Linked DNA regions of Homo sapiens. The protein of the gene in region 5 interacts with the protein of the main gene of each other region in a biochemical or structural test. Each region holds a gene or a part of one and is shown on either strand. Other genes may lie near its edges.

Region 1 (3,754 bases), on a different chromosome or scaffold from region 5:
TCCAGTGGGACCCCTAGAGGGCAGCAGGGCTAACAGGGCAGGTGGAGATGGGGCCACAGGCCTCTGACCCTGCATCACTCTGTCTCATACTCCTGACTCCAGTCAGGCTAGGTGTCCCCTGATTCTCCAAGAATCCTCAGGGCCCCTGGAGAGGAATGGAGGAAAGTGCTGGGTGGGGCTGTCCCCAGAATGTGACTTTCCAGTTCCCATTGCCTGTCTGGCACAGAGTAGGTGTTCACTACATACCTGTTGAATGCATGAATGGATAGATCAGGGGTCTGCTATTGCCACAGATTGGCTGTGTGACTTGGGCTAGTTTGTTGCCCTCTCTGTCTCAGTGGCCCCCTTTATAGAACCAGGAGATGTGGCTGGATATTCCCACTGAGCCTTCTAGCTCTGGATCCAGGTCTCTCCCACCCTAGTTGCAGCCCCCAACCTCCCTCCCCAGTTCCCACCAACAAATCCCAAATGGAGGGAATGCAACAAGCCACACAGAAGGGTGCAGAAATGGGCCTTTATTGCCAGGGGCAGGACAACATGTGTAGAGGCTGCTGTTCTGACTGTGAGGAGAAGGGGTATCTGGGAAGGTCCTTCTGGTGGGACTCAGGCTTTCACGCTGGTTAGGTGGTGGCAGCAGCTTCCTGGAGGGAGATGCTATAAGGGGGTGGGGCAAGCCACTGGGAACCAATCTGGAATGAGACCAAGGGGGTTAGGACATTTGCTGCTAGGCTGCCCTTACACCCAGCTGTCAGTCATCCACTGGGCACTTGATGGGACCCAAGTTGACCTGGCTCCAGTGTCCCAGCTCTTTCCCACAATACCCCATGCGGTTTAAGTCCTGGGAAGAAGAAACTGGCACCTGTGGTTTGGGGTCTTTCATTAGCACCTGGCACTGACTCATCTTCATTCCCCTCACCCTCCTTCAGAACAATGGTAGATGTGAAAAGATTGATTGAGGCCACTACTGGAGCCAGGTTCAGGGCCCAATATGTGATCAGAATCATGGATATCCATTTGAGACCAAGGTTGGGGCTCATTCTGTGACCAAGACTAAGGCTCAGTCAATAACTGGCATCAAAGCTCAGTCTGTGACTAGGATCCAGGCTCAGTCTGGGGCCAGAATCAGAGTTCAGTGATTAAGGCTCAGTGTTCAGAGTGTGACCAGAATCAGGGCCTAGCCTGGGATGGGGGCCAGGGCTCAATCTATGACTGAGATGAAGGCACAGTCTTCTAACACAAAAATAAGGGAAGCCACGCTTGACTTTTACTTCACCATAGGCCCCTGTGCATTGGGGCACAGAGACTGGCTCCTCACCAGCATGCACCACAGTGGTCCTCCTCATTCGTCCTCTTCAGATGAGGGTTTGCAGCTGGGTTTTGTGCTGAGGATTATCTGAAGAAACAAAATCAATAGCAGGCCTTAGTCTCTGCCACTGGAATTGAATAGAGACCAGACTCCAAAAGATGCCGCTCTCCAGCCGGTAACCTGACAGTTGTGGGACCCCAGGGATGTTGCTCCACCTCTCTGAGCTTCAGTTTGTTCATCTGTAAAGTGGGTACAATGACAGTACCTTCCCCACAGGGTTGTTGCAAGGATCCAGTGAGATAGTGTGTACAGAGCACAAAGTGACTGCCTAAGGGACTGGACTTGTGGCTATTTCCTTTCTTCTTCTTCTTTTTTTTTTTCTTTTTTTGAGATTGCGGTCTCACTCTGTCACCCAGGCCGGAGTGCAGTGGCATGATGTCGGCTACCTGCGATGTCCGCCTCCTAGGCTCAAGCAATCCTCCCGCCTCAGCCTCCCGAGTAGCTGGGACTCCAGGTGGATGCCACCACGCCTGGCTAATTTTGTATTTTTTAGTAGAGATGGGGTTTCACCGTGTCACCCAGGCTGGTCTCAAACTCCTGAACTCAAGTGGTCTGCCCACCTCAGCCTCGCAAAGTGCTAGGATTACAAGTGTGAGCCACTGCGCCTGGCTGACTTGTGGCTATTTTCATAGAAGGGTCACCTCCAGGGTCTTGACAGCTTTACTTACTCCATTTCTCCCCAGCAACCCCAGCCATGCCTGTAGACCCAAAAGCCAAAGGGAGCCCCCGGGTGCCTGTGGAGGGGAAGCCATGGCTCCCAATTTGCTTAGGACAGTGGGTCCTTCTGCTTCTCCAGGGTCCCCTGACCAGAACTGCTTATGGGGTGGGCACAGAGCTCCATGCCTGCCTCAGAAGGTCCCCACTTCCCCATTGACTTACCGACGACCTGCTGAATGACATTCACATCCAGGGAGTGGATGAAGATGCGGATCAGTGGACATATCTGACAGCGGAGAAAGGAGGAAGAGGAGGGTCAGGAGTAGGAGGAAGAACAGATCATTCTTCTCAGCTGAGAACAAATTGCTTGCCACCCACAGATGAGCTCATTTCTAGGGATCTTAGAATCTTTGAACCTTAGGATTTTATTTTGTTTTATTGTATTTTTTTTTTTTTTTCTGAGACAGAATCTCACTGTCTTGCCCAGGCTGGAGTACAGTGGTACGATTTCTGCTCACTGCAACCTCCGCCTCCCAGATTCAAGTGATTCTCCTGCCTCAGCCTCTCAAGAAACTGGGTTCACAGGCACATGCCACCATGCCTGGCTAATTTTTGTATTTTCAGTAGAGACAGGGTTTCACCATGTTAGCCAGGCTGGTCTTGAACTCCTGACCTCAAGTGATCTGCCCACCTTGACCTTCAAAAGAGCTGGGATTACAGGCATAAGCCACCGCGCCTGGCCTGAACCTTAGGATTTTAGAACAATGGGATCCCAGCAGTCTTAAATCTGGAAACCCTAGGGTGTTAGAATCCTAACACCTTAGAACACTAGAATTCTAGGACCTCAAAAATCTACATTCTAGATTGTTAACATTCCCATGTTGAACTTTGGAACCCTGGAATTTTAAAGGGTCAAATGGTGCCCTGAGGCATTTGCCCTGAGGTTGTAGAGCGGAGTATCTCTTGCTCCTGTGTGTACACAGTTCCCCGCAGATTGCAATTCAGCAGGTCTGGGGTGTGGCCTGAGATTCCGCATTCCTATCAAGCACCCAGCTGAGGCTGAAGCTGGTGGAGGATCGCTTTTGGAATATAACTAAACTCCGGTTCAGTGGGTCACAGAGCCATCCGGAGGATTTTTCTTTTATAAACCCACATTCCTGGGTCTGCTTCCAGAATGACTGATTTAGAATCTCTGCAACTTTGGGCCTAGTAATCCTGCACATGGTACCTATGGTTTTGGATGATGCACAGATGGAAAAAAAATTAAAACTATTTTATAAGTCCATTGATTGTATGATATGTGATATTAATTTTCTATTTATGATAGGGATATAAAGTTTTATTTTTAAAAATAAATGCTTCTAAAGAAACATATTTAAGTAAAATTGTGTTGAAGATGTTAGCTACAAAAGCATATTGGTAGTGCGTGGATATGGTGAGAGGCTCAAGTTTGGGACCTGGCAATTTCAGCTAATGTCAGGCCTCTGCTCTACCCTGCTACCCACCAGGCTGATTAGTAGAGGAGGAAGCTCCAGCTGACCTCCTAAGGAGAAGCTTTCACCTCCGAAGGAAAAGTGCTCAGAGGATACAGCCAGGCCTGCAAATTCCCCCACCTGCCCCCACCAGGCCTGGATCTGGGCTCCAAGGAGTGGGAGACTCACCTCCTTCTGCAGCAGGGAGGATACAGTGCTTTTCAGCGTGTTGATCACGCTATTCACGAACTTGTTGATG
Region 2 (3,500 bases), on a different chromosome or scaffold from region 5:
GGACACCCACTGGAGCCCCATCCCAGTCTCCTCTACCCTACTCAGATACAGAACCTCCAGGCCCCTCCATGTTAGGCTGGGACCTGCAGCTCCTTGGGCCACCCAAGAGGGGATGTGGTGATATACAGTGAGGGTTAAGAGCACAGATTTGGTATCTAGACAGCCTGGCTTCTAATTTACTATCTATTTCCTGTGCAAATCTCCTCACACCTTAGCTTTTCATCTGTAAAAGGAAAAACCTCCAATACCTAGATCAAGTCCTCATCATAAGGATTAAATGGAAACTGCCTAAGACTTGCTTCTATTTTCACTTACCCCCATCCTTCCTGAGCTGAAGTCAATCCCTAGAGCTGTGACTTATTCAGCCACAGCTCTGTCTTGCAAAAAACACACACAGGCACCCGTGCATTCACTCACTCACTGCATGACTTGATCACCTGCCGGCAGGGGAGCAGGACCACCTCTGAGTTCAGTTGGCCCAGGTTTGATCCCAGCCCCACCCGTGTGCCACTGGGTGACCTTGCCAACTGTCTCTCCTCTACAAAATGGGATTAAAGTGATGCTTTCTTCTTCAAGCTGTTTTAAAAATTCAAGAGATAATGCCAGCTGACTCTTGAACAACAAAGGTGTGAACTGCTGAAGTCCATTTACACATAGATTTTCTTCCATCTCTGTCACCCCTAAGACAGCAAGATCAACTTCTCTTCCTCCTCCCCCTCAGGCTACTCAACATAAAGACGATGAGGATGAAGACCTTCATGATGATCCACTTCCATTTAAAAACAGCCAATTTTTATTTTCTCTATGATTTTCTTAAAATTTTTTCTCTAGCTTACTTTATTGTAAGAATACAGTATATAACACGTGTAACAGACAAATATGTGTTAATCGGTCATTTATGTTATTGGTAAGGCTTCAGGTCAACAGTAGGCAATCAATAGTTAAGTTTGGGGGACACAAAAGTTATACTTGAATTCTCAGCTGAAAGGGGGGTCAACACCACTAAACCCACATTGTTCAAGGGACAACTACATATGTAAAGCACTTAGTGCAATGCCTGGCACAAAATAAGTGCTCAGTATGAAGTATGATTAATTCTTTCATCAGTTAATTGAGGTCATGTGTTAGTTTGCTCCCTGATTTCGCTGTTCATTTCCAGCACACTTGCAGAGGATCTAGCAGGTGCTGGGTCTCCACATTCTGCCCAACTTCCCTTTAATTTCAATTGCCTCTTATTGTCTCCACCCCATCTCTCCCATGGTGCCTTCCCAGTTTCTTGGACATGGCCCAGGTCCTCCTGTCTTTGAGAGTTTGTTCACCCTGGTCTCTCCTCTTGAAATGTTCTCCTTCCCCATCTCCCTATTGTTGCTGCCAATACAGCTCCAGGGTCCTCTCCTCCCTGAAGCCCCCTCTCGTTCTCTCCTAGCTCTCAGCTTCCTCCACTTGGGAGTCCCCTAATCTGTGTGCATTCTGTCCCATGGGCTCTTCCTGAAGGAGGGACCCAGCTCCTCCCAGCCCCTTGCGTACACACCCCCAGCACAGACCTATGAGTGCTCAGGGAGGGGTGAAAGGAAAGGAAAAGGCTGTGCATAGTGAAACGTGGTCTAGGTTGGACTACAGAACGCGGAGTAGAGCATGCAATATGGGAAATGACATGGATCGACACCACAGTCCAGGAAAGGCGTGAGGACTTAGGGGGTGACATGGGAAAGGAGCATTTTCCTGTTCTGTAATTGGCCATGCGGGAGCCCCAGGGTCAGCCCACAGGGCAGGGAAGCCTGACGCAGGCACATCTGGGTCTGTAATCCTACCTCCTCTCTCCCCCACCTGCCCAGCCCCTTCACCCATGGCCATTACAGTGGAGAAGCTGCAGTGGTCAGTGTCGTCGCTGTGGAAAAGGGCAGCATCCTTCAGGAACACAGCTCCCGCCTTGAGGATAAAAGTGGTGAACAGCTGGGTGTGGACGTAGTTCCGGGGGCAGTGGAGCCTCCTGGGGGTAATGGGAGAAATGAGGAACAAGAAGCAAGCAGGGAGAGGGGATTCTGGTGTGCTGCAACTGGGCTGAACAGGGCAGGAGGTGAATCGAATCAAACTGGATGCAATCAAACTGAATTGAATTGAGCTGAACTTGAGGCTTCAGTTTAACCCTTGCAGGACAGCTGAGCAACCATTCCTGTGCTCAGGGTAAGTGTGGAAAGAGAGGAATATCTGGTCCCTGCCTCGAGGGTGCTCACAGTCTCAGGGAACAGAGGCAGAAACGGCAGGTACTGCCCATGGGAGCCCCCTGGATGATCAGAGACACTCATCCCCATGAGACCAAGAACAGCACAGGCCAGATGCAGTGCTCAGACTTCGAAGGCTGGAGGAGGGGGTGGGGTCTTAAAGGGGACAGTGGTCAGAGAGTTATAACAGTCAAGAGGGGCTCTGGGCAGGAGGCAGAGGACTGTCAGATGCAGATAGGAGCTGGGCTTTCTCAGTTATAAATACACTGAGAACAATGAGGAATTCCAAGCAAATAGAATGAGCACCACGTGAGCAAAGGGGCAGAGGTAGGAATGAGTTCTGGTGTTTGAAGAGATGGGTCTACATGGTGGGGAAAAGGGAAGGGAAAGTTAGACATGGGTATGGCGCCTAGATCTGGGAAGTTCATGGCTATGTAGGCAAGGAAGCAGACTTGACCCTCTGGGAAATAAGGAGCCAAGGAAGGTTCTTGAGCTGGTGATGAGGATGACAAACCTGAGAGCAACCAGGATGGTGATGGCCACGAAGAGGGCTACAATAGAGATGCTATGGCCCACGGTGTAGATAATCTTCACTGTGGAGAAGTAAGATTCCTGGGAAGGGCAGAGACAGAAGAAAGTCTCAGCTTCTGGGCCTTTGGAGGAAAGAGAGGCTTGACAATCAAGCAGGTGAAGCCTTTGCCATTCCACCCCAACACTCCCCATCTGGAGGCAGAGGTGTCCGCGAGTACCATGGAAAGCTCCCCCTGTGCACTGGAGCTTTAGTTTACAGCCTGCCTTCCACCTGACCTGCGGGTGAGGGAGGGGTAGTGGCGAGGAGTGGAGATGCTTAACATTCATGATGCTCTGAGGGTGAGGAGAGGCAGCCGCAGAAACTACATGTCCCTGGGGAATGACAAAAGCCCAAGAGGAAATCAGCTTGTTTATTGACATCCAGCTTGCTCACCAGCTTGGGAACACAATGTATCCAAATAAAGGAGATAGCCAGGGACACCTGGGGACAGCCACAGGCAGGCAGGCAAAAGGTTTCCGTGGCCAAGTGTTTGGATCAGTCAGAGTCCAGCCTGGCCCTGAAGATAGAGGGTGCAGGCAAGGGAAGGGAGCAGGGGCCTGGGCACTGGCCCCAATCCCAGCTCTCCTGTGGGGTCCAGGCAATCACTTCCTGTCCCTGACTCAGTCTTTCCATCTGAAAAATGGTTACAGTCATGCTTTACCTCTCAGAGATCAAGGGGACAGAGAAATGGGATGATGGGTTTGGGA
Region 3 (2,707 bases), on a different chromosome or scaffold from region 5:
TAACTCTGCCAGCTGAAAGGTTTGTGGTGTTGGTTGTGGTTGTGATTGTTGATGAGCCATTAACTGATTTATGTTCAGCCTTTCCCTCTGTAATAAGAGGCACTCACCCCACTTTCATTGTTTGTTCCATTTACAGAAAAAAAATTGTTCCATTTGCTCATTTATAAATAAAATTCTCTTTCATTTTTCTGCTAGAAGTCTTCAAAAAGTGAAGAAGAATGCAATTACCCCTTTTGTGGCACTCATTTACAATAAAAGTTTGCACACTCCTTCCCCTGAATGCATTCAGCAGCTTACTCTCACCCCAGCCCTGAACCGCATTCCTCAGTTAACATGTAACTCTCCATACATTCTGTACTTCTCTTGACTAGTAGAATTGGAGGGGTTTATAATGCTGACAGCACGTTAGCTCAGAAACTATGGCAGCAGCCAGGTAAAAGTTGGAAGTTTCCTCCACCACTCTGCTTTCCCAGACATCTGTCAAGAGCGAGGCCTTGCGCAGCGTGTCCATCTCACCCGGAACGTGGTGCTTTTTTAAACGGAGTCCACCTTTACTACATTATTGTTGGTCATCAGTGGAGACGGTTTCCATTTAACCCTATCGGCCACGTCGTTAGAGCTGTCCACAAAGAACACCCTGGCTGTACAGAGCGAGACTATAATTCTCCTGTATTCCTTCCTGAAATTTTGGTTCAGTAGCCCGTATATAATGGCATTGAGGCAGCTGTTGAAATACGCCATGTAGTAACTGGCCACAAACAGCCACTCTGGGATCCTAGGCACCATGCTGGCGGGGTCAGAGGCCACGGCCAGGCCAATGAAGTTCAGAGGAGCCCAGCAAATGGCAAAAAGGACAAAAACCACAAACATGGTGACAAAATTCCTGAAGTCCTGTGGTTTCAGTTTGGGTTTGCGGTCAGGTTTCACCCTCTGTCTGACCTGGAGAACCAGGATCCATATTCTCAGGTAACAGAAGATGACTATGATCATGGGGACGAGGAAGTGGAAAACCACCACGGCGATGGTGTAGGCGGAGCTGACGGACTGGGCGAAGGTGCACGAGTAGATCCTCGGGTCGTACTGGAGAGTCCCTGCACGGAGGTTGGGCAGGACGGCCGCCAGCGTCAGGAGCCATATGAGGAGCACGTAGCAGAGGGAGTTCTTGCTGCTGTACAGTTTGTCGTACTTGAGACTGTGGCAGATGTAGCAGTAGCGGTTGATGGCGATGCCGGTGATGTTGAATATGGAGCCGATGACGCTCAGGCCCATCAGGAACCCACTGACTTGGCAGTGCAGATAGCCCAGGTTCCACCCGTTGTTAAATATCGACATCAGCACCAACGGGTACGGATAAATGGCCACCACCAGGTCTGCCACCGCTAAGCTCACCACAAAGATGTTTCCTGAAAGAGAATCGTTTAGAAAATACAGTGAATACCAGTTCACAGTGGGTTTTCTGTTACAATTGTTAAAGAAGGAGCTGCTTCTGCAGCTCCGATGACCTGACGTCACAGCGGCGGCCGCACTGCAAATGAAGTGGAGGCCGTTTCCCAGGAGGGCCAGTCCACTGCCGCTCCTGACACATCGAATCCGCTGTTCACACATTCCCACCTCCCCAGAACAGGGCCTGTTCCATGTTCAAAACTGCTGTCTTTCAAACCGTTCGGCTTCTCATCTCTTAAAAAGTCCTGAGATCAGAATGCTTGCACACCATCTGTTGTTCTGGAGCCTTCTACATCACCTGAGAAATCTCATATGATGTCAAGCCAGCCACAACTTCCTTAAGTTCAAGTCTTCATTCCCTCTGTAGTGCTTCAGCAGCTCTCAGGGGGCCTCTAGCTTCTGTTCTTGCTGATCCCATAGAGAGGGAGTTAAGGGCAAGAGGGATCTGTCGTCAGCCGTCTGGATGAGAACATGGCTTCACTCCTTACTAACTGTCCAACCGGGGCAAGTTACTTGATCTCCCCAAGCACCTGCCTCCTCCCCTGGATGATGGGATAATGAGCAGCTTCCTCTTAGGGCTGTGGTGAGCACGAGATGAGACTATCTGTGGTGAGCGCCATGTACCGTGTCTTACACCATAGAAATGTTCTTATTCTACGACTCCCTCACCTTGAACCAAAGGAAAATGCAGAAATTCTCTTAGATCTTATAAAGAACTTACGTTACAAAACTTAAACCCTAAATAGTCTGTTAATTTTCTCAATTAATATAACAACACATATTTAATTACAGAAAAAAAAAACTCTAGTCACTTTTTTATTTTTATTTTTTTGAGACAGAGTCTTGTTCTGTCACCCAGTCTGGAGTGCAATGGTCCGACCTTGGCTCACTGCAACCTCCGCCTGCAGGGCTCAAGCAATCCTCCTACCTCAGCCTCCCAAGCAGCAGGGACCACAGGTGCACACCACCACACCCGGCTCGTTTTTGTATTTTTGTAGAGACGGGGTTTTGCCATTTTGTCTAGGCTGCTCTCAAACTCCTGGGCTCCAGCCATCCACTTGCCTCGGCCTCCCAAAGTGCTGGGATGGCAGGTGTGAGCCATTGCTCCCAGCTACATTAGTCAAATATTATGAGATGTTCTGCAAATATGTTTTTTTTCTTTTGCGGCTCTTCTGCCTCTGTTTCTTACTATTCCTTCTGCCTCGAATGGCTCCTCACATCAACTTTCTAAATCCTGCCCATTCTCCCAAGTCTATCTCAAATA
Region 4 (3,500 bases), on a different chromosome or scaffold from region 5:
GCTTAAGGGAAGAAATAATCTGAGAAATGAGAGGTAAGCTGAAAAACTAAGCCTTGACCAGATGCAGAAGAGTGTATAAGCCACGTTTGAAAGTCTTTTTCCTGAGAACAGTTGAAGGGTTTTAAGTGGGAAAGTCACTTGTTCAGATTGGATTTTTGAAAGACGATTCTGGTGTGTTGTGGAAACTGGCTGGGACATTGCACGTCAGACCAGATGATACTGTAGTAATCTCAGGTCATAGTGGCCTGAACTGACAACAGAGTTGGGGACAAATGAATGAGTTCCAGAGGCATTTAGGAAGATTTTGGAGGAGTTGGTCATTGGGTATGAGAAGATGGGGTTGGAGAAATGTAAAATAACACCTGTGTCTCTGCCTGGCTTCTTGTGGGAATGGTGCCACCATTCGTTGAGTTAGGGTGCATTTAGATGAGGCACAGGTGTGGGGTTGAGATTATGAGTTCAGTTTTGGAATCATTGAATCCTGAGATATCCAGGTGAAAGGCTGGAGTAATTACAGGTCCGGTCTGGAGATAAAGACTTAAGAGTTACCAGTAGTTCCAAATTTACCAAATTTTTTTTTGTTCTTTTTGAGACGGAGTCTTGCTCGCCAGGCTGGAGTGCAGTGGCACAATCTTGGCTCACTGAAACCTCTGCCTCCCGGGTTCAAGCGATTCTCCTGTCTCAGCCTCCCGAGTAGCTGGGATTACAGGCATGTGCCACCACGGCCAGCTAATTTTTGTATTTTTAGTAGAGACGAGGTTTCACCATGTTGGCCAAAATGGTCTTGTTCTCTTTACCTTGTGATCCACCCACCTCGGCCTCCCAAAGTGCTGGGATTACAGGTGTGAGCCACCACACCTGGCAAGATTTTCCTTTTTAAGTTGATTTCTTTGGTAAGGTGTCCAAAGATGGCATACCTGTACTATGCAGTGCAAGGTGCTGTTCAGTGCTATTAAGGGAATACTGTACTATTTTATAAAGATAAGGCCATATACTCTCATTACCATAATGATTATTAGAAGTACCAAAGGAGTTTGAGGGAGGAGAGACACTGATTTTAACTGTGTTGATCAGAGAAAGCTTTGTTGAGGACTTTGTATTTGAGTGGAACCCTACAGATTGGGCAGAATGGTGGTGAGTAGACTCATGGCAGGCTGTATTAGCTAGAGTAAGGTGGAGGAGGACTAGGTGTGTCCAGGGAGGATTGAGGGGAGGTTGCACACGTGTACAGGAGCTGAGTGCCTGCTGAGTAGTTTGTATTGCTATGGTAGACGGTGGGGACCTGTTGAAAATTTGATGGCAGTGCAGTGAGAATTTTGATATGGCAGTGGTGCAGAGGAGGACTTGGTGGGGGGGCACTGATTAAAGGAAGAATTGAGAGACAGGCAGGCCAATTAGGGGATAAAAGGACTGTTATGAAAGGTCCTGCTATAAGGCTATGGCCATGCAACTAGGGACCAGGTTTTTAAGGTGAATGATGGGAATCTTCAACCAAAAGGAAGATGACGCATTCCAGGTCAGACTTACTGAATTGGAGAATTTGGTGGGACTTGGCAATGGAACTGGTTAGCAGGCAGCTGGCAGTGTGGATCTGCAGCTTGAGAAAGAGGTCAGAAGTGGAGATAAAGACTTGGAAGGCTTCCACGTGGAAGTGATAGTCGAAGGTAAGGGAGAGGATGAGGTCACCATGGGACTGTAAAGAATAGAAAAAAGAACTGAGAATGAGACCTTGGGGACGGGAAGAGAAAGAGGACCTGGGAAAGGATAAAAAGAACGGTGGCTCTGAAGGACAGTCATTCCTCATCACAGAAGATGAGGGAAGAACTGTTCGATCACAGGTGTGGGCAGCAGTTCAAATGCTGCACAGGAAGAAAAGTATTTGGTTATGGCAACATTCCCGAACCTGGTGTTGGGAGGTGTTCCAGTGTTGGTATGGGAATCATTCGATGGCGCCAGCACCGCCCAGTAGGAACAGAATGCAAGCCACGTGTGTTATTTTAAATTTTCCAGGAGTCACATTAAAAAAGTAAACAGTCCAGGCACGGTGGCTCACACCTGTAATCCCAGCACTTTGGGAGGCCGAGGTGAGCGGATCACAAGGTCAGGAGATCGAGACCATCCTGGCCAACATGGTGAAACCCCGTCTCTACTAAAAATACAAAAATTAGCCGGGCGTGGTGGCGGATGCCTGTAATCCCAACTACTTGGGAGGCTGATGCAGGAGAATTGCTTGAACCTGGGAGGCTGAGGTTGCAGTGAGCCGAGATCACGCCACTGAACTCCAGCCTGGGTGACAGAACAAGACTCCATCTCAAAAAAAAAAAAAAGTTAAAAATAAAAAGAAATAAGTGAAATTAATTTCAGTAATATCGACTTTATTTATGTAAAATATTGTTAATTCAACATATTATTGATTTTAAAATGTTAACGCAACATTTTACGTTTTTTTTGTACCAAGACTTTGAAACCTGGTGTGTATCTTAGGCTTACAACACATTTCAGTTCAAACATAAAATTTTCATTGGAAATACTTGATTTGCTTTTAGATTTCATAAAACTTACTACTTTTTCATGGAAAAGTAGGTTCACATACCCACGTTTTTCCAAACATAAAAAAGTTTTCCAGCAATGGAAATGTCAGTTTTTAAATTTAAATTAATTAAAATACAGTTAAAAATTCAGTTTGAGTGGCACTAGTCTCATTGCAAGTGCACAGTAGCCACGTGCGGCTACTCTGTTGGACAGCACAGGGAGGGTTATGCGAAGTAAAATAGGCTACTGTACAGCGGATGTGCACTCTGAAAATACCCAAAATGGTTTAGCACCATCGCAAAGCATTTCACAGGATTAGTGTTTCTTAGAATACATGTTGGCTTATCCTAGTGGAATTTTTAGAATTTAGAAGGGTCAAATCTCTAATTTTGAATGTGAGGAGACAAACTTTTTATGAAAATACACAGATTCCAAAATTTGAAATAGTGTTTGGGCTACAGTCAGCAGAATGGTACATTGGTAGAAGTTCCTAAACATACCGGTTTGTGCCATGTTTCTGAAATGCTTGGTGCAGAGGCTTACACTTAAAAACAGATCCAGCAGGAGGGGTGGGAGCGTTCCTGTTACTGTTTGTGAGTTTCTTTTGCACTCCCTGGAGTCAGTGAGGTGGTGGCTTCAGGTGGGGGGATGAAGTTAGGATTGCTTTAAGTCAGTGTCCCAGCGTCCCTGTGTGGTGGAGGTGTGAGGTGGGAGAGGGTGCCACCAGGCTAATTATGTTGTGCTTGTCTCTCACTTTTCTTATCTCACTTTTCTCCGTTTAGCCCCGTTTAGTCATTGTGTACTTTTTGCCGACCTGGGCCAATTGAACGCATATTTACTAAATATGGGTGGGTTTTTTCAGTTTATAAAAAGCAGGTTCAAAGATTTTCATTTAATTATCTCATTGATTGAGACTGCTTTGCAGCTGTTAACTAGACCATCTAAGTGATAACCAGTAAAGATAGAAA
Region 5 (3,500 bases):
ATAATGCAGTGTGGGCATGTTTTAGCGCTTTCTGGTTCAAGGGGCCAAGGCCACCCAAGATTCCATCTTTGCATTTAGCTGACCTCAGAAATTCTATTCAAATCAACAAATACCCACTGAGTAAAGGCTGTGTCAAGTTCAGTGCCAGGACCTATAACTGTGATTTTAGATCAGAAGCCAAAGGCCGAGTTAGCTCTAAAATCGGAAGTTTGTTTCACATTATTGGGAGAAAAGTCTTTACCATTGGATTTCGAGTTTTTCTTTGCAATGGAGTGTTCTGTGAAAGGGTGGTGTATGCAAAGCAGTCCCTCAAAGGCCAAAGGAGCTGAGAAACCAAAGGACAAGGCAGGCAAATCCAGTTTGTTGGTACATTGGAATTTATCAGGGGAACTTACGAACAGAAGCATGGTCTTGGACAGCCACAAAACATGTAGATCTCTGTGTTACTCCCCAGACCCAAGGCTGATATACCATAGGGAAAGGGTATATGTGCTCCAGCAAGACAATCGAAGGCAGCCCTCCGCAATAGCCAAGAATGCTATAGTGCATCATAGCCTATAATTTGCGTGATAACATTAAGGTTGACATGTTCTTAGACTAGGGACAGTAAATGAAGTAGAAATCGGGAGGCAATCACAGGACTGGGGCTAATCAGAAGTCAACATCACAGATTACCATCCAAGAGGGAGTCACTTGTGTCTCCACATGGAGTTTACCCCTACTCTCTTCCAGGTAAAAAGGGGGTGTACATGACTGATATTACACCTCAAGGTGTGGCTATGAGAGCTGGAGTTCTGGCTGATGATCACTTGATTGAAGTGAATGGAGAGAATGTAGAGGATGCCAGCCATGAGGAAGTGGTTGAAAAGGTATGCCCCAAAGGGTACTTTTCTTACCCTATCTTCCACTCTATTCTCATTGGAGGTGACAGGAAGACAGGGGTGGTAGGGGACAGCATGAGTTTATGATGGAAAAAATATCCAGTTGAGTTGCCCCTTCATATTAAGGGTGAACAGACTCACACTAGTGGTATAAGCAGTGTTAATATAGGGTTTTGGAATAAAGCCTTCCCTAGTTTCACATGAGGTCTACAAAATTATTAACTTTACCTTTTGGATCTTGTTTGTATCTGATTGGGAGCCCCCTCTGAACTGTTTGATTGAGACAGGGTCTCACTCTGTTACCCAGGCTGGAGTGTAGTGGCACAATCTCGGCTCATTGCAGTCTCGGCCTCCTGGGCTCAGATGATTCTTCTACCTCAGCTTCCTGAGTAGCTGGGACTACAGGTGTGCACCACCGCACCTGGCTAATTTTTATGTGTGTGTGTGTGTGTGTGTGTGTGTGTGTGTGTGTGTGTGTTTTGTAGAGATAGGGTCTCACTATGTTGGCCAGGCTGGTCTTGAACTCCTGAGCTCAAGTGATCTGCCCGCCTTGGCCTCCCAAAGTGCTGGGATTATGGGCGTGTGCCACTGCGCCCTCTGAATTTACAATAAGTTCACTGTTGAGCCGTTAATACTGAAATGCTTTAATAGGAAGTGGGAGATAACCGAGATTTTCCTTTGAGGTCATATGGAACCTTAAAAATTGACCAACCTTCTCTTTGTAGAATGATTTTTTGACGTGGACCCTTACTTTCTTTTCTTTTCCAAACTCCCTTTCTAGCTTTTATCTAGGTACCTTTATGGGTTTTCTGAATTCCAGCTCCTACTTGGGCTCAGTTAGCACCTATGTGGGTAGGTCATACTTAAATAAGGGAAAACAACTATAGAAGTGGAGATAGGGGCCGGGCGCGGTGGCTCACGCCTGTAATCCCAGCACTTTGGGAGGCCGAGGCGGGTGGATCACGAGGTCAGGAGATCGAGACCATCCTGGCTAACAAGGTGAAACACCGTCTCCACTAAAAATAAAAAAAAAAAAATTTAGCCAGGTGCGGTGGCGGGCACCTGTAGTCCCAGGTACTCGGGAGGCTGAGGCAGGAGAATGGCGTGAACCCGGGAGGCAGAGCTTGCAGTGAGCTGAGATAGTGCCACTGCACTCCAGCCTGGGCGAAAGAGTGACACTCCATCTCAAAAAAAAAAAAAAAGGCGATAAATACATATCAGTTAGCTGGTAGGGCATAGTGTAACAGCTTAAACTCAGGCCTTTCATCCCCTATCTTTTGTTGAACCTAGAGACTGTGTGCCTTTATACAGAAACTTTCTTATTCCCCAGCATTGTTCTTGGGGGTTGATGTCATTCCTCATCTGTGTGTGTTGTTACAGGTGAAGAAGTCAGGAAGCCGTGTCATGTTCCTGCTGGTGGACAAAGAAACTGACAAGCGTCATGTTGAGCAGAAGATACAATTCAAAAGAGAAACAGCCAGTTTGAAACTGTTACCCCACCAGCCCCGAATTGTGGAGATGAAGAAAGGAAGCAATGGCTATGGTTTCTATCTGAGGGCAGGCTCAGAACAGAAAGGTAAGGTACAAGAGCAGGAAACTTGGCAGTAACCAGCAAATTCCTCATCCCATTCTGACTCCAGAGTTCCATTAGGTTCCCAACTCCCAGCCAGATGCATGAGCGGCATAGCATAGAAGGCACAGCTGGGTCAGCGTCTATGTCACATGAGGGTCTGATGTTGGGCATCAAAAGTTTCCATAGCATTATGATAAGGCAGAATTTGGGATCTGGGCAACGGTATCCTGGTAAGTTAGCTCTCTGGGGCGGGGGTGGGGGGAAATCCAAATTGGTAGCGTTTGTTTTTGGTACCAAATTGGTAGTATTTTGTGATGTAAATACTCCTCCCATGTCCAGTTTCAACTTACTAACACGATGTCACTGAACACAATGAAGTGTTGCACAGAATTGGCTTTTGTGAGCCGGTGTGAGCCAGTATAGCACACCGCTGGACCTGAGGCCGAGGTGTGGGTGAGGATTTGGGACTCAGAACCAGGAGTCCTCCTTCCTTGCAACTCAATAGGAAGAACACTAGGTTCTTTCAGGGAAGGTAAATACATAAAAGAACATGAGTTCGGGCCGTATAAACTGCTATTCGCCCATAAGTTGTTATTTTCTTTTCACTCTCTGTTTACATTAATTTATCAAATATTAATTTGGTTTGTGTTTTGTAAAAACATCCTCAGTGCCTTGGAGAAAGAATATCATATGAAGCAGACAGGAATTCTTTAGTGAAGGAGTCTACCATTTAGTAGATAAGAGATATGTCCATAATGAAGGGAGATAGAGGTTAAGTACCTTCATACAGGGGCAGATCAAGCACTGTGATAATTCAACGTTAGAGTAAGCTTTTCTCACTAAAAAGGTACCAGAAGCCCTCATAGTAGGGGTGGCACTTGAGTTCAGGCTTTGTAACATGAATAGATTTGGGAAAGTAGACAGAGCTGGGATAAGGAAGATCATTCCAGGAAGGTGGGAATCATGTGAACACAGTCAGGAGACACTGGCACAGTTTAATTGGCACATGATGTGTAGTACAAGAATTCGTTGGAAAGGTAGGTTGG
Region 6 (3,500 bases), on a different chromosome or scaffold from region 5:
GCTGTGGCTTAGGGACCTTCTCATGACAGAAAAGACGCTTTAGAGTTTTGAGAAATCTTTCAAACAAAAGTTTGCTTTCAAGCATGAATAACACTGAAAGCAACACAGTGAGATAAGCAACTCTTTCACCACTAAGGATACCCTCCTCTTCCACCACCACTCTGGAAAACAAGTTTATCTGTGTCACCAGCTTCATTGTCTCAGAACTCTTATTGTAGACAAGTTCCCCCACTATGTGTAATCACATTCAGATATGGCAGCTTGAGCTATTTTTCTAGTCTTGAAAATGTTCAACTCAGTCATTGTTCTTCATCTCCCACTGAGAACAGATTTTTAAAAGAAAAAGTTTATTTCTTATGCAGCAGTGTAATCTGTAACCTGATTCTAACCATCTGAATGAGAAACTGCCTACCTCACCATAGATGTCAAAAAGGCTTCTGGGAGGATGTCAGGCACGTGGGACCTGAGAGCCTGTGAGAGACAGCCGCAATGTCCCAGAGTGCAGATCCCAGGCCAGCAACAGCAGGCCAGACACTACTCCATCCCCAAGACACTTGTTCTTTACCCAGGCACTTTTAAGTATTTAAGCAAGTATTTATTCTGTTCAACTCAATAAGCACCTATTGACTTAACCACCAGATACAAGAGAGCAAGGAAGCAAAAAGGAAGGAAATACAGAAGCAATGGGAGAACCTAGCCTAAGCATCACTTCCAGCTGAATCTATTTGTAGAGTGTTAGTTTGGTCATTAATGGTCTGAGTATCTAACTGCTGAATGAACGTGTTTGTATCTATTCCCCTTTTTTCTGTAGGAAGAGGCTGAATGATCAGCCCCCCCCAGGATTGAAAACTGTCCTGCTGCCAAATGATTATTCATCTATGGATCATCATACAACCCCTACACAATTCACTTACAGTCTACTTTTCATCTTCCCTCCTTCGGAACAATTCCTGGTACAGCATTGTCTTGTTATTTCATCCTATTTATTTTCACTTCTTTCCCAGGGCAACACTCCCTCTAGTGTCTATGTAGGGCTCTCAGGTTCCACTCTTGGTACACAGGGTGAAGGCAAAAAGGGAACTCAAGCCTACAACTCTATGGGTATAGATCACCACAAAGTAGTGGATTGTACCAGTGTGATAATTCTGGGGAACAGGCTGCAGATATTCTACAGATAGCTCCAATCCATGTGATATGCCCATTTCACAACAGGCACAAATACAGAAGAGGAAAGGAAAAATGTAACATTGAGGTCTAGCCCATGACTTTGGCATACATGAGTCTTTGGCACAATGGGATCTGCTTGTCAACCAGCCCCAGCAACCCAGTGTTCTCCAATGTTCTAGTAGCTACACACTTTACTCACTTCCCTCAAGAAGTCTCCCTTGATTAGCTGTGAGTTGTATCATGGATGCCAATTCTGAGAGAAGCTACTCTTCATCTTTCTGGATCCCTTAACTCTCCATGCAATAAAAGCCCCGAAATAATGTTAAATTTATTCATAGCTTATTAGTGTAATCATCTAATGAATATTATTCTGTTTCTACTACAAATTCTGAGTATGAATTTCAAGAATACAGGTCCCCAGTCATTCACTTCTAGATCCTTTTCAATGTCTACTTTAGCACGACATAAAAGATAGACATGGCAAAGACTCATTGACTGGGGACATGAACTATGGGAGGTGGTTGAAATGAGCATCTTGATGAGAACTGGGTTCTAGCCAAGGCCTTGCCATCAGCTCACTGGGAAACCTTGAGCAAGTGCCTCCTTCCTCTGCTTCAACATTTCCATCTGAAAATTAAGGGAAGGCCCCTTCCAGATATAAAAATAACAACTAAACTAAAGTATCTTGAGTGCTTGCTACAAATGGGTCAGGCACTTCTTTTAAGCACTCTGCCCTGTACAGTCTCACTTAATTCTTACAACAGCCCAAGGTAGAGATACTATATCATCACTCCCTTTTTTCAGATGAAGAAACAGCAGAGAGGGTAACAACTTGCCCAATGTCACACAGCTATTAAGAAACAGAGGCAGGACTTGAACCCAGGCACCTGGCTGCAAAATCCATTGATCTTATTTAGTATGTGGCCTGTTTCAGGTTCCCAGTCTATCTGTTCTCAACAAATCCAGAAGAGGATTGCATTCATGATGAAATCTCTCCACAAATATGAATTCACACAAGTTGTACCATATACCCATACTAAATAATCCCACAACCCAATATAATCCTTGATTATCCTACATAGCTTTATTTCCAGTTTTTCCCCTAAAGAAGGTTTTTTCTCTTTCCAGTGCATGCCAAGTAACAGTCCCCTACTTAGCCAAGGGCACAGTTTTACTGACCAAGAACCCTGCTGGCCCCACTCTGCTGCAGGTCCCTCTCATCTCAACCAAGCAGGGATGGCTTCCTCTGATTCCCTGCATGCACTCAATAGCAGAAAACAATCTGTGCAATCCTGAGGTTCTTAGACTCCATTATTTTTTCCAAATTTACTATAGAACATTTATTAGTGTACTATAAACAACAGTATTTCTATAAATAATTAAATCCAAACTACACTGATCAAAATAAATGAGCAAAATATTCCTGGTTGTGATGTAACCAGGCTTGATTCACTCACTAACTCAAATTACAAAGTGACTCACAAGAGGCCCCCATTAACAATGGTTAGTAAGATACAGCTTGTCCAACATTAACTAGCTTGTTATTCATTGTCTGCAGCCACCGCGGTGGGTGGGCAGGTTGACTATAGAGTATGGCCCCAGAACAGAAGGAAAGAATCTATTCCTAAATCTCTCTAACTAGCCTCATACGATACCCATCCTGGGGCCTCAATCTATCCTACCTATAAAATGGGCACCTCATCAGAGTGAAAACACACAAATCCTCTTAGAAGGAAAATGCTCTGTTAACCTGAGAAGAAAGGAGAAAAATGGGTGTGAAGAGGGGATGGCTCTTCCAAGAGAAAAAAAAATAAGCAGGGTCCAAGGCAGGCTGCCATGTTTCTGTCTGAGCCTCATATCCTCATCTCTATCATGAGTGATTTGATGAAGACAATTCCCAAGTGCACTTCCAGTCTTGACATTCTGCAAGTCTCAAATTCCTGTAGTATGTCCCACAGGGATCCTCTCTTCTGCGAGCTCATAGCCTGAAACGATCACTTGACAATTAACCACATATCACCCCATGGCATCTGTCTTGTTGTCATGTGTTATTTAACTTTACAGAAGAGCAGTCTCACATCCAAAGCATGTCGGCAGGACCATGAGGCAAATGCTGTCTTATCCTTCTTTGTCTCCTCTCTATCACACTTCTACCAACCCCACAGTTTCTAGGACAATGCCACATACACAGGAAACACTCAGAAAATGGATGAATGTCTTATGGGGGTGTCCATCTGATCTCTGAAGTCCATGAGAAGCCAGGATTGTTAACTAGTCCTTATTTCTATCCTCTTACTAAGTAGTGTAGAGACCCCTCTGAATCTTATGTTAAC
Region 7 (3,500 bases), on a different chromosome or scaffold from region 5:
CTCAGATGTTTGGGACAAACATATCAGCAGGAGCTGGGCAGAGGACAAGATCTTCAGGGGAGGGGAAGGAGGAATATATGTCCAAGGACAGAAGTCCCCATCAGTGTTGTGTTTTTCTTCTACTGAAAATAAAATGTACTTCCTAGATCTGTCCATTGAATCAGTGACCAACTCAGTATCAATGAACAGCTCAGTCATCTTCCATTGAAACAGACTAGGGCTCTTTAGGGAAATGGCTAATTCCAGGTCTAGGGCAGAAAAAATGCAAGCTGAGCCTGAAGCATCTTATCAGATCAGAAAGCAAAGAAGAGCTCAAGATGCTCCAGGTTCTGCCAAAGATCTCAGAAGCCAACTGGAAGGAGTACCCACTGGCCAAGCCCAAAACAATGATGTCTGTGATGTGTTGGAACAGCAAGGATGTCTAAAAATAATGACATTACCATGGTACTCAAACAGCCTCAGTGGTCACGTCTGGAAAGAATGCTAGAGAACTGACTCTTCCTCTGATAAATAAAGAGGAATATTGAACATCTTCCCTGCCTTTGCTGTACAGATTCTATTTAACCAAACAGCTAGTGGTGAAATCATTTTAGAATGCTAGTGAATAAATGAAGGAGGTATGATAGGATTAGAATATCCCCACTTCAAGCCCCAGTGATATAATGGGTCCAGGCCATGGTCAATGGCTGCCAAAACCAGCAGGTGAAAGGCCGATGGGTCACTTTGTAATGGACAGAGCAGGCTGACAGCACATGAATTCTGGTCAATCTTGACACCACAGAAAAGAAGAATTCTTTCCAGGCCAAATCTGCACCCAGGAAGTACAGGGAACAGAGGGACACATTAAATGGCACTGTGGAGATGCAAACTCCAAACTACAGGATACACCTGGGGACAATCTGGTGTCTTCACTAAATAAATGGAAAGAAAAAAAAGCAGTGGAGGCTTACCGAGTAAAGAAACCTAATAGGCAAATCGACCATATGCAACGTGTGCTCCTTCTGTGGATTCTGCTTCAAACAAACCAACCAAAAATTTACGAGGCAGCCAGCAACATTTCAACACTAAGTAGATATTTGATGATATTAAATGATTTTATGTGTTATAATGGATTGTGGGCTTTTTTTTTTTTTTTTTACAGTTATTATCTTCTAGAACTATATATTGAAGGATTTACAGATGAAGGGATACTGTATCTGGATGTTCTTCAAAATAATCTACAGTGGCCGGGTGCAGTGGTTCATGCCTGTAATCCCAGCACTTTGGGAGGCCGAGGTGGGTGGATCACCTGAGGTCAGGAGTTTGATATCAGCCTGACCAACATGGTGAAACCCCGTCTCTACTAAAAATACAAAAATTAGCTGGGCATGGTGGTGCACACCTATAATCCCAGCTTCTTGGGAGGTTGAGGCACGAGAATCACTTGAACCCGGGAGGTGGAGGTTGCGGTAAGCTGAGATTGCGCCACTGCACTCCAGACTGGGAGACAGAGAGACTCCATCTCAAAAAACAAACAAACAAAAATCCAAAAGAATCTACAGTGATGGGACAGTGGGTGAGGATGGAAAGAATCTAGGTTAGCTTTGGGGTGAAGCTGGGTCACAGGTACACAGGGGTTCATTATACTAACAGGGTTCTCTCTATCAATGTATGTGTTTGAAACTTTCCATGTTAAAAACATGAAAAAAACCCAACCCTAGCTCATTGCTTATTCATAGTAATTACTCAATAAATATTAACTGTCCTGTTAAAGATTTTTTTTTTAGGCCACAAAAATGGGGACTCACCCCCAACCCACAACAAGTAAAGAGAGTTGACTTTAAATAGAGGGCTGTTATGCTAAGCGAAATAAGCCAGTCACAGAAGGAGAAATACTGCATGATTCCACTTACATGGGGGTCTCTAAAATACTCAAATGCGTAGACTCAAAGAGTGGGATGGTGGTTTCCAGGGAGAAAGGGCGCTAGGAAATTGGGAATTGCTAATCAATGGGCATAAAGTTTCAGTTTGGCAAGATAGATGAGTTCTAGGGGTCTGATGTGCAACAGTATCACATGATATGTATCCATAGTTAATGATATGTAGTTAATGATATGATATTTACACTTAAAAGTGTGTTAAGAGGGTAGAGCTCATGCTATATGCTCTTGCCACAATAAAAGAAAATTAAAATAATAAATAAATGGAGGGCTGTGCTTTGCCACCCAGACCCTTGGTGTGGCAGGATGGGAATAGAACATGGGTTCTACCGTTTCCTTCTTCTGCACACATTTACTGAGCACCTATTATGTTCCAGGTGCCACAAAGCACAGGTAGGAGATGTAATGCCAGCCCTTTCTTCAGGCTTTTGGGCCGGGAGACAATGATGCCATTACTGAAGACCTAGCACAAAGCATCCCTTGCCTCTCCCCTTCATCCACAGACCCCTGCACAACCTCAGGCAGCCTGTGGAGATGAGTCCTTTAGCACCTGGCCGACTCTCAGACATATGCATAATCCACTCTCCGCACGGGGCCACCAAAGTATGCCTTCCAGCCTGGACACCAATTACTAAGCAGGGCTCACAGCCTCCCCCCTGCCTCCTCCTGCCTTCTCTCTCACTGTAACAAAGGCATAACATGTAGACAGTCAAATTTAGAAAGCGTGTGTATCTGAAGCACACAGCACAGCCTGATGGCTCTGCATATGCATGCACCAATGTCATCACTACCCAGGTCAAGGTATGGAACTGTCCCAGCCCTTCAGAAAGTTTTCTAGCATTCTCTTCCAGTTAGTACACTCACTGCACACACACAGATGGGTAACCGCTATCCTGGATTTTATCACCATTGATAAGTTTCCCCTGTTTTTGAACTTCATCTACACAGAATCAAAAGGTGTGTACACCTTGAGTTTCAGACCTGGCTTATTTTGCGCAGTATAACATCCATGAAATTCATCCATGTGTGCATCAGTAGTTTGCTATTTTTCCTTGTACCGTGGTCCAGTCTATGGATACATGGTTTATTTATCCATTCTCCTGCAGATGGCATCTGGCCTCATCTCTTGACCCCTCTTCTCATAGGCTACACGTTTTACGTCTCCCAAACCACAGAGCAACCCAGCAATACTGCTACTCCTGTGCCTACGTGTGTGTAGTTCCCTTTGCCCTCACACTTCATGATGCATATCTGAATATTGACAGTTACAGTGCATCGTGATAAAAGTACATGCAGAGTGTTTCAGAAGCACATGGGACATCTAAGTCTGGGGGTGGTCAGCGACACAGGCACTATCACAGAGCACAGACTCACAAGATAGGAGAGAGGCTCAGGTGTGGCTCACAGATGGCTGGAGTGGGACATTGGCTGGGCTGTCCTGGGACTTCTGATATCAGAGCCTCTGCCCAGCTTGTATGCCTTGAGGTGCATTTGAGGGGGGCCCTGGGCTCTGAGTCTCCGGGCTGCTTTGAGTGGATGGCATTTGGAAGGTGGAGGTCAGTGATGCTCGGTGATCTGCCC

The links.
Region 1: the proteins of PDZK1 (region 5) and BPIFA2 interact in a test that uses a peptide from one of them, tested with the Homo sapiens proteins (one large-scale study listed by IntAct).
Region 2: the proteins of PDZK1 (region 5) and GHRHR interact in a test that uses a peptide from one of them, tested with the Homo sapiens proteins (one large-scale study listed by IntAct).
Region 3: the proteins of PDZK1 (region 5) and MTNR1A interact in a test that uses a peptide from one of them, tested with the Homo sapiens proteins (one large-scale study listed by IntAct).
Region 4: the proteins of PDZK1 (region 5) and TNRC6B interact in a test that uses a peptide from one of them, tested with the Homo sapiens proteins (one large-scale study listed by IntAct).
Region 6: the proteins of PDZK1 (region 5) and SORCS3 interact in a test that uses a peptide from one of them, tested with the Homo sapiens proteins (one large-scale study listed by IntAct).
Region 7: the proteins of PDZK1 (region 5) and ADRA1D interact in a test that uses a peptide from one of them, tested with the Homo sapiens proteins (one large-scale study listed by IntAct).

Annotation. Positions count from the first base shown.
Region 1 is NC_000020.11:33,178,159-33,181,912, reverse strand, and holds the end of BPIFA2 (BPI fold-containing family A member 2 precursor), read right to left. Parts: coding exon 3,685-3,754; intron 2,310-3,684; coding exon 2,246-2,309; intron 1,394-2,245; coding exon 1,353-1,393; 3' UTR 1,316-1,352; intron 690-1,315; 3' UTR 501-689; downstream 1-500. UniProt on the Homo sapiens protein: Has strong antibacterial activity against P.aeruginosa.
Region 2 is NC_000007.14:30,970,453-30,973,952, reverse strand, and holds part of GHRHR (growth hormone-releasing hormone receptor precursor), read right to left. Parts: intron 2,835-3,500; coding exon 2,737-2,834; intron 1,991-2,736; coding exon 1,858-1,990; intron 1-1,857.
Region 3 is NC_000004.12:186,533,155-186,535,861, forward strand, and holds the end of MTNR1A (melatonin receptor type 1A), read right to left. Parts: intron 1,404-2,707; coding exon 535-1,403; 3' UTR 501-534; downstream 1-500.
Region 4 is NC_000022.11:40,184,425-40,187,924, forward strand, and holds part of TNRC6B (trinucleotide repeat-containing gene 6B protein), read left to right. Parts: intron 1-3,500.
Region 5 is NC_000001.11:145,679,869-145,683,368, reverse strand, and holds part of PDZK1 (Na(+)/H(+) exchange regulatory cofactor NHE-RF3), read left to right. Parts: intron 1-732; coding exon 733-869; intron 870-2,261; coding exon 2,262-2,457; intron 2,458-3,500. UniProt on the Homo sapiens protein: A scaffold protein that connects plasma membrane proteins and regulatory components, regulating their surface expression in epithelial cells apical domains.
Region 6 is NC_000010.11:104,647,790-104,651,289, reverse strand, and holds part of SORCS3 (VPS10 domain-containing receptor SorCS3 precursor), read right to left. Parts: intron 1-3,500. UniProt on the Homo sapiens protein: Plays an important role in modulating synaptic transmission and plasticity in the hippocampus, probably by affecting the trafficking and localization ofAMPA-type glutamate receptors in the postsynaptic density.
Region 7 is NC_000020.11:4,239,288-4,242,787, forward strand, and holds part of ADRA1D (alpha-1D adrenergic receptor), read right to left. Parts: intron 1-3,500. UniProt on the Homo sapiens protein: This alpha-adrenergic receptor mediates its effect through the influx of extracellular calcium.